Linked DNA regions of Homo sapiens: region 2 is linked to region 1. The links come from fine-mapping of genetic effects on gene expression. Tissue or cell type: prefrontal cortex. Region 1 holds a variant in brackets; the other region holds the start of a gene. All regions are shown on one strand. Distances are from middle to middle.

What was found. PIP is the estimated chance that this variant, and not a neighbour inherited with it, causes the effect.
Region 2: GJD2-DT starts here. The variant in region 1 is the best candidate, but not a certain one, in a credible set for the expression of GJD2-DT in prefrontal cortex (BrainSeq, PIP 0.64).

Annotation. Positions count from the first base shown.
Region 1 is chr15:34,812,490-34,816,887 of GRCh38, reverse strand. It overlaps GJD2-DT (GJD2 divergent transcript), which reads right to left. Exons shown (of 3, transcript NR_120329.1): 3 at 3,965-4,398. Among named protein-coding and RNA genes, the nearest start is that of ACTC1, 19 kb to the right of the region's middle. The variant A/G (reference allele first, on the strand shown) is at 2,729.
Region 2 is chr15:34,753,212-34,757,609 of GRCh38, reverse strand. GJD2-DT (GJD2 divergent transcript) reads right to left here and starts at 2,526. Exons shown (of 3, transcript NR_120329.1): 1 at 2,389-2,526. GJD2 (gap junction protein delta 2) reads left to right here and starts at 2,612. Exons shown (of 2, transcript NM_020660.3): 1 at 2,612-3,192; 2 at 4,238-4,398. The coding sequence starts at 3,122.

The sequences.
Region 1 (4,398 bases):
AGATTTACTAAGGAAGCTAATGGATCTAGAGACTTCTTTTTGTGGGAAATATTTGTATTATACATTCAGTTTATATAATAGATATGAAATTATTCAGCTTCTATTTATTGTTGTGTTGGTTTTGGTAAATTGGGTTTTTGTAGAATTTTTCCCTTTCATCAGCATCTTTACAGATCTTGATATAAAATTGTTTATAATATCTTATTTGTTAAATATCTGAAGGAAATGATGTCCCTTTTTCATATCTGATATTGGTAATATATGCTTTCTCTCTCTTTTTAAATCAATCAGTTTTACTATAAGTTTATAAACTTTATTAGCTTTTTTTTTTCAATAACCTCTACTCCAACAGAGATCATTATTAGCTTTTGTTGAAAGAACAACCTTTAGGCTTTGTTGCTTTTATTTATTTATTTATTTTCTATTTTACTAATTTCTGCCCTTATTTTTATAGTTTCTTTTCTTTGGTTTTCTTAGCTCTTAATTTTTTTTTCCCCTAATTTACTGAGAAAGATTTTCTGTTTATTCATTTGCAATCTTTACTTTTTTTTTCTAATATATGTGTTTAAGGCTTAGTGACATCCTGTAAGTTTTGAGATGTTATATTTTCTCAATTTGGTTTGAAACATTTTCTTATTTCCACTGTAATGTCACCCATATGCCATGGATTATATTGCAAACATCTGGGAGTGTTCTAACTATCTCTTTGTTATTGTTAGAAAAAAATACTCCATATAATTTCTGTTTTTTGACATTTGTTGATACTTGCTTTATAGTCCACTATATCATTATGCTTTGCTAGTATTCGCTGGATATTTGAAATGCATGTGTATTTTGTTGGATACAGAGTATTCTGTGTGTCATTTAGGTGGAATCTTGTGAATATTTGACCCTGTCTTGTGATTCAACTCCTCTATAGTCTGTTTTTTTTTTAATCTTCTGGTTTTGCTTGTAGATTTTTAGATTGCTTCTTTAATTTCTGTCAGATTTTCTCTACACTTTTGAGGCATTTTATTAGATGCATCCAAATTTACTACTTTTATATCTTCCTGTTAGATTGGCACTTTTATCATTACAAAATGTTCTTCTTACTTTCCAGTAATGCTTCCTGTCTTTAAGTTTACTTTGTCTGATATTATTATAATCACACCAGCTTTCTTTGGTTCACATTTGCAGAATATGCCTCTATCTCTCACTGTTTCAACTTTTTTGTACCTTTATATTTTAGGTGTGCATTATATAATTGAACTTTTAACTCCAGTCTAACAATCTCTCTCTTTTAATTAGAATATTAGTTCATTCATATTTATGTAGTTATTATTATATTAGGTTTATATCTACTACCTTGTGTTTATCTATCCAACCTGTTTTAAATTAATTTTTCATTTCTTTGTGATTAAGTAGTTTTACTACTTCACTTTTCCTCATGTTAGTTGTTAGATACACATTACTTTGCTAAGCTTTTGATGTTATCTTAGATAACACAGTTTGTATTCTTGCTTTATTATAGTCTAATATCAATTGGTCCTTTTACTACTTCCCAGAGAATGCCAGCACCTTTGAACACTTTAGCTCCTCTTATCACTGTGCCTGACTTTTGCGCTAGAAGATGTTACTATGTTGCCGTTGGCTTCCACCTTGTTGAGAAGCCATTCTCATTGCTATTACCACTTATTTGATAAAAATGTATCTTTTTCTTTGGCTGCTTACAAGATTTTCTTTTTTTCTCTCATTTTCAGCACTTTCATACGATGTGCCTAGTCCAATTTTCTTTGTGTTTACTCAGTTTAAGGTTTGTAGAAATTTGGACTTGTGAATTAATGTCTTCCTTCATTTTAGAAGAATACTTTTTTTTTGAGATGGAGTCTTGCTGTGTTGCCCAGGCTGGAGTGCAGTGGCATGATCTCAGCTCACTGCAATCTCTGCCTCCCAAGTTCAAGTGATTCTCCTGCCTCAGCCTCCTGGGTAGCTGGGACTACAGGTGTATGCCACCACACCTGGCTAATTTTTGTATTTTTGTAGCGAGGGGGTTTCACCGTGTTGGCTAGGCTGGTCTCAAACTCCTGACCTCAGTAATCCACCCATCTCAGCCACCCAAAGTGCTACGATTATAGGCATGAGCCATGGCGCCCAGCCACTTTAGTAGAATTCTTGATCATTATCTATTCAAATATTGCTTTTGTCATATTCTCTTCTCCCTTTCCTTTTTGAGCTCCAAATGCATGTGTACTAAACTTTTCACCATATTCCATTTGCCTTTTAGCTCTTTACTGTATTTCTTTTGCTCTCTAAGCTTTAGTCTGGATATAGTCTAGTACCTTAAAGCTCACTAATCCTCTTTTCAACTGTGTCAACATGCTTTTAAATTCATCTACTAAGTTATTCATTTGCATAATATTTTCAGTTTAAGAATTTCATGTGAGTCTCCTTAATGGATTATAATTCTTTGATGAAATTACCTATTTGCCATTTATTATCTTGAACATAGTAATCATTAAAAAACCCATAAGCTGTGTATCCGGATCTCCTGCTGGTCACTTTCCATTGTCTTTTTTTTTTTTCCTTGTGATTTTTCAGTGATTTGATCTGGCCAAGTACTTTCTTTGTTACTTGCCAGATATTATGTATGAAAAACTATAGCAATGATTTGAGGCTCTGTACAAGGTTATCCTCCTCCAGGGGATATTTACTTTTGATTTTGACAGACAGGGTACTGCCAATCACTTCC[A/G]ACTAGCCTGGGATTGAGCTGACTCAAAGTCTGTTTGCTGTCAGTCTGTCTTTACTCCTAAGATGTAGCCCTTTGTGGATCACAGCTGAAGGACTGGTCTTTTACCACGGACACTCTTCTTCAGCAGGCCCTATACTCCAATTCTTTCTCTCCCACCCCAGCCCCATGAGACTGCTTACACTGCTGCTCAATTCCTGAGCCTTTGCTGCCAGTTTTTTCTCAGCTTCTGCTCTACTTGGGTCTCTCTCTCTCTCTCTCTGTATCTCTCTCTCTCTCTCTCTCCCCTACAAATTGGCAAATACCACAAGGGAAAAAGCAGCAACAGATACTGGGCTCAACTCTTTGCTTCCCCTCTCTCAGCCACGTTAGCCCCTAAAGTTCTCCCTCCTTTGATAATGTGCCTGTGTTTTCAAAGAACTTGTTTAAAAAAAGTTTATGCAACTTTTCCAGTTGTACTGGGTGGTAACATGCCAGTCCATCATAGCCAGAGTGGAAACTTTTGTCATTGACGTTTAAGTGCTCATTGACAACATTGAATCAGAGGAATTCCTCAAATAGGAATGGTTTCCTGTAAAACTTCACAGTGTCCTATCTCTGTTGAGTCTGAAAATAAATAAATAAATAAATAAATAAATATATAACTGACTTTACTGTGTCAGTAAATTCTACATTTAAAAAGTCTTAATTACTCAGCTGTTTAAACTGAGGAAGTACAACAGGAAGGTCAGAGATACAGCTATAATTTAATTTTATCTCTAAAATGAAATTGTTTGCTTATTTTATTTGTCCAGTTGGGTTCTTGAGCCACTGTAGCAGTACAAGCCACAGACAAAACCCCTCAGACACCGAGATAGGGAAGGGAGTGGCTTTAATCAGCTGGGAGCATCGGCAGGCTAGTGTCTTAAAATCCGAGCTCGTCAGATGCTGAACTTCTGTCCCTTTTAAGGGCTCACAACTCTAAGGGGGTCCGCATGAGACAGTCGTGATCGATTGAGCAAGCCAGGGGGTATGTGACAGGGGCTGCAAGCACCAGTGGTCCGAGTGAAACAGAACAGAACAGGAGGTTTCACAGTGTCCTTCCATACAATGTCTGGAATCTATAGATAACATCAGTTGCTAGATCAGGGGTCTAATTTTAACTACCAGGCTTAGGTCAGGCAGGCCCAGGCCTGGTTTCGGGTCTGGTTCCTAGGCACCAGGCTACCTGCCTTTAGTTTTGCTTTTCTTTCCTTTTCTGAGTATAAAACAATATAAAACAATATGAGAGGGTCTCTCTCTTCCCTCACCACCACATATCATAATGATTTTGATTTTAAGCCAGATTATTATTTTATTTGCCTACTTACGAAAGCTTAAAGGATAGGTTTTATTTTCTCAAACTGTAGACAATTCTACTTGAGCTACTCAAAATAGTGTATTCTAAATTCATAAAAAATAACATTGAGAAAAACACTAGATCAGTCTGAGAAATACGAAAAGAATGATTACTAAATATGTTTAATTTATAGGCATGTGACTCAGACTACAGCTGGGAAACCAGCTCTCCTTGGGAACTTATTTAAAATCTCAGATTCTGTAGCTCTGCCCCCAAGAGATTGTGGTTCCAAAGATTTGAGGTAGGGAGTTTCCAAATGATTTCTTTGTAGGTAATCTCAAGACACACTTGGAGA
Region 2 (4,398 bases), 59 kb after region 1:
CAGTTTTAACACTATGAAACAAATGGATGATAGATTTCCTCATCCCTAGGATTCACTCCTGCCCTAATAGTCATGGAACTAAAAGTTCTCAGGTTTTTATTGTTATTGGAGCTGTGGATGAGAACCCGTTAATAACACAGCTACCTCAATCTTGTTTCCATAGATTTCAATTTAGCAGAATTGGGATGGGATCGCAGCATCTGTCTTTTTAATGAAGATCCCCAGACAGTCTGTTGTGCAGCAAAGGTTATTCTATGAGCATTCTACGAATTTCATTGTTTCTCATCCAAAACTATTATTTTAATAAACAGAATGGCTTTTAAATAAGATGTAATGGAAAGAACTTCCCAGCTGCCTTAAACGGGGGTTTTCAATCAGAGGAGAGTTGAGATAATCAGAATCTATCAAGAAGATACAATGCCCTGAGGAAACTGAGAGATGCCCGGATCCACAGAGAACCATTTCACATTTAATGCACATTTGTTTATCGGAACAAATTATTAATTGAAAATGGAGTTGACTGGACTTGAAGGAGGAAGTACAATGTAGTAAGTGTGAAATTTATGAGTGGTTATTAAAAATAAAAATGGTTATTTCTGAAGTGTGGTGGTGAGACTAAGATTTTTATTTAAAAGTAGCCTACACAGTCCAACTGATGAGTTTTAAAATATAGGTTCTATATATATGCGTCTTTGTGCACTTATACACCTATGTTGTTTGCACATGTTTATATGTGGAATCTATATGGCATATTAAAGTATATTTCAAAATAATACACAAATGATCAACAATTCAGTCATAGCGTAGTGTCTGATAATTGCATTTCCTGCAGTCTATGTTCTTAGGATCATAATCTTTAACGGTTTGGGAAAGCCAACACATAAAATGACAATTTTGAGTTGTGCAGCCTATTTTGGGACATTTAAAGATGTTAAACAGATTTCCCTTTGGACTTACTCATTCACTTCTTGGCTAAGATCATTTACTATAAGAGAGTCTGCCAGACAAGGAGGGAATACAGGGACCTAGGGCCAAGGGGAGTAGAAGGGAAACCTGGGAAAACACACCAAGTTTGGGTTAGGGGATCACCATTCCATCTGGAAGCTAACTGGATAATAGGGTATCCATTCGTCCTCACCCTTGAACCTCCTCCGTGTTCAGAAGGAAACTAATAAATCACTTTATCCCTCTCTCCATTGTTAGTGGACTCTTTTACTCCTTTGCAGTGAAAGGCTGCTTTCTTGGGGTAAAGATGTCAACCCTAGCAGAGGATTTCAGTGATCTTTCTGGCGGCGAAGCTTAGACCGTGTGTTTAAACATCATTTTATGAAGAAGTACACTGTGAGTGGACTGAGGGCCATGCCCTGCACCTTTCTTCCCAGTCCCTGGGCCACCAACTACCCAACCACCTCGGTTGTTCCAGAAGTGAAGGCTCACCATGGTGTGGCTTATGTAATATACATATGTGCTATGATCCCTGTGGATAATTAAGGCTAGGTCCCTTTATATGCCTAGGACAAGTTAGCAACCCTTTCAAGGTCGTGTTTTCGAAAGGATGACAATTACTTTCCCATTGGACTTTTGGTACATTTACATCAAACACTGCCAGCTACAGTGTCTCCTAATACTGACCCCTGGGCTAATTAGCAGCTTAGTGAGGTTGTTTCAATTTTTCAGCAACCAATTAAGTAGTTGCTCTAGACAGAACTGACAACACAATGTGAATTTTAAAAACCGGGATCTGCTGGTTGAGGGGAGAAAGCCAAACCCAGTAAGGCAAGTGGGGGCAGGGCGAGGCTGTGAGTGGCTCTGTTTCTGCTAGCAGAATACTGGGTCTTAAATTCAGATTAAATCACAGTTTACCTGACGAGTACCCCGCCCCCCCTTCCCATTAGTAAAATAATAGCAATAATTTAAAAAGAGCCGAGCATCTGGGTTAGTGCAAGGGGAAGCGAGACCTTTAACCATGGCCACCCCACTTGCTCTTTGCGAGGCACCTGTTAGATGCGCTCGTGTGCCCTGACCCCTATACCGAGAGACAGCTCCACACCTGCATTTACCCTTCAGCCTAAATGGATTCCCATCAAGCCTTTCTCACTTCACTGTCGGATCCACAGAGGCACCGAACCGCAGCCACTCTGCAGAAGCACTCTCAGCCACTCTGTCCCCTAAGGGAGATTTAAAAGTGGTCGCCCCCACTCGCCCTCCCTCAGCCAGCATCTCCATCTAGGGAAGGAATTTCAGTTGTCTCCAGGAGGCAAAAAGCGAAAAGGTGAGGGATGCACCGAGAGAAGAGAAGATACCTACTCACTCCCCTCCCCACTCACCCACGCGTCCGCTCCCGGCTCCCCCTCCGCCTGCTTGGGTCTGGCGGTCAGGTGAGGTTACCTGGGCTCCCCGAGAAGCCCCGAGGGGCGCTGCAGTCCTTCCTTTCGAAATCGCCCCGCTCCCCGCCGGGCCTCCAGGACTCTTGCCCCTCTCCCCCCGCGCGCGTCCCCGGCCCCTCGGGCTCCGACGCGCAGCGACAGCCGCACGGCGCGCTCTGCTCCCCTCCGCCGACCTGGCGTGACGCAGGCGGAGACTACTTAAGGGCGGATTAGAGGCGGCGGCCGCGGATCCCCGAGCCCAGCATTCGGCTCCGCGCGCTCGGCCCTGGCCTCGCAGGCTGCCGCGCCGGAGCGCCAGGTGCCCGCTGAAGTAGCAGGAACAGAGCCGGTGTTCGGACCCTCCCCTGGCCCCCAACCTGCGGCGGAGAGCGGCGCTGAGACTTCTCCTGGGCGGGCGAGCGCTGGAGGACCTGCAGGCTGCCACCCCGCCCCGCCCCTCGTCCCGGCGTCCGCGGGATCCAGACCCGAACCCCGGACGGCGCCCGAGGTTCGTGCCCTCTCTCTAGACCGCGCCAACTGCCCCATCGGTCGGGACGCGCTTGGATTTCTTTCCCCATTTCTTCTCTTTTAAGTACAATAAAAGGAAAGGGGGATTCGAGGATTTTTTAAAAAATTGCTTCTTTAATTGGGAGGCAATTCACTCCCATTCTGGAAGTGCGGCCCGGGGAGGGGCCAGGAGCGGGAACGTGCCCGGTGCTGCCCAGTCTTTGTCTGCTGCCTCCGGATGCACAGCGATGGGGGAATGGACCATCTTGGAGAGGCTGCTAGAAGCCGCGGTGCAGCAGCACTCCACTATGATCGGGAGGTAAGGGCGCCAAGCCGGCGGTCAGGGGGCCCCGTCGGGCGGCCCCCGGGAGTCCCTTCTCACACCTGGACTGAGTCTCCCGCTCCAATCCCCAGTCCGTCCTCTGCCTCCTCCCCATCGTCCTAGGTCAAGGCTCCGGTGTTCCCGGCGATGAGGGATTACCCGACGCCCCGCGATGCCCCCCTCCTCTAGCTACTCCTAACCAGCTGCCCATCCCTTCCCCATCAAGCACCACTGGGGCTTCACTCTTCCCACATCAGAAAAGGAGCCGCTGGCTCAGTCTTGGTCCCTCCACTCTCCAGAGTCAGAGCCAATCTCCATTTGGTTCCCTAAATAGAATCTACAAAGAAGGCAGGATTGCATTTGGACAGAAAAGGGCAAATGGGGAGATGGATTTGCTCTTCAGAGCAGATGCCTCTTTTCTCAACAAATAATTACTAAACCAAACTTATTTGGCGGTGTAAACTTACCGAGCCTACACACCCAATTGCCATTTTTGGGTCTGTATCTATATCTATGTCTCTATCTACCTAGCTTTATATATATATGAGTTCAATATATATGAATATATATTCATAGCCATCTGCTTATATAAAGCATTAAATTTAATATTCATGTTGAGAATAAACTAAATATACACATGGAGTAGTTATTTACACACCCTGTGTGTAGACCTCGAAGCATGCACCATCTGTAAAGGTATTCTGTGTGCATTTGCCATATCCAGAGTGAAGGTGTGTTTTGTGTTTCTATACATTCTATATAGAGAGATGAAATCTATCTGTTGCAAGTAGACTATGTCCAGTGTATGGAGATGTGTGTACCTGGGATCTCTATAATATGAAATATTCCCAGCCTACCAGCACTCAGCAGAAAAGGAAGAGACAAAAAGCTTTCCCAGATTCCTAGTTCAGTACCAGCCCGGGATGGACAGCTCCCCAGTCAAAAGACTGGTAAACACCAGCAAAGGGAAGGGAGGAGCAGGGGTTTCCTGTCAGTGACGCAGCCCGTGAGAACCTCTCTCCCTCCCTCTTCCTCCGTTCAGGATCCTGTTGACTGTGGTGGTGATCTTCCGGATCCTCATTGTGGCCATTGTGGGGGAGACGGTGTACGATGATGAGCAGACCATGTTTGTGTGCAACACCCTGCAGCCCGGCTGTAACCAGGCCTGCTATGACCGCGCCTTCCCCATCTCCCACATACGTT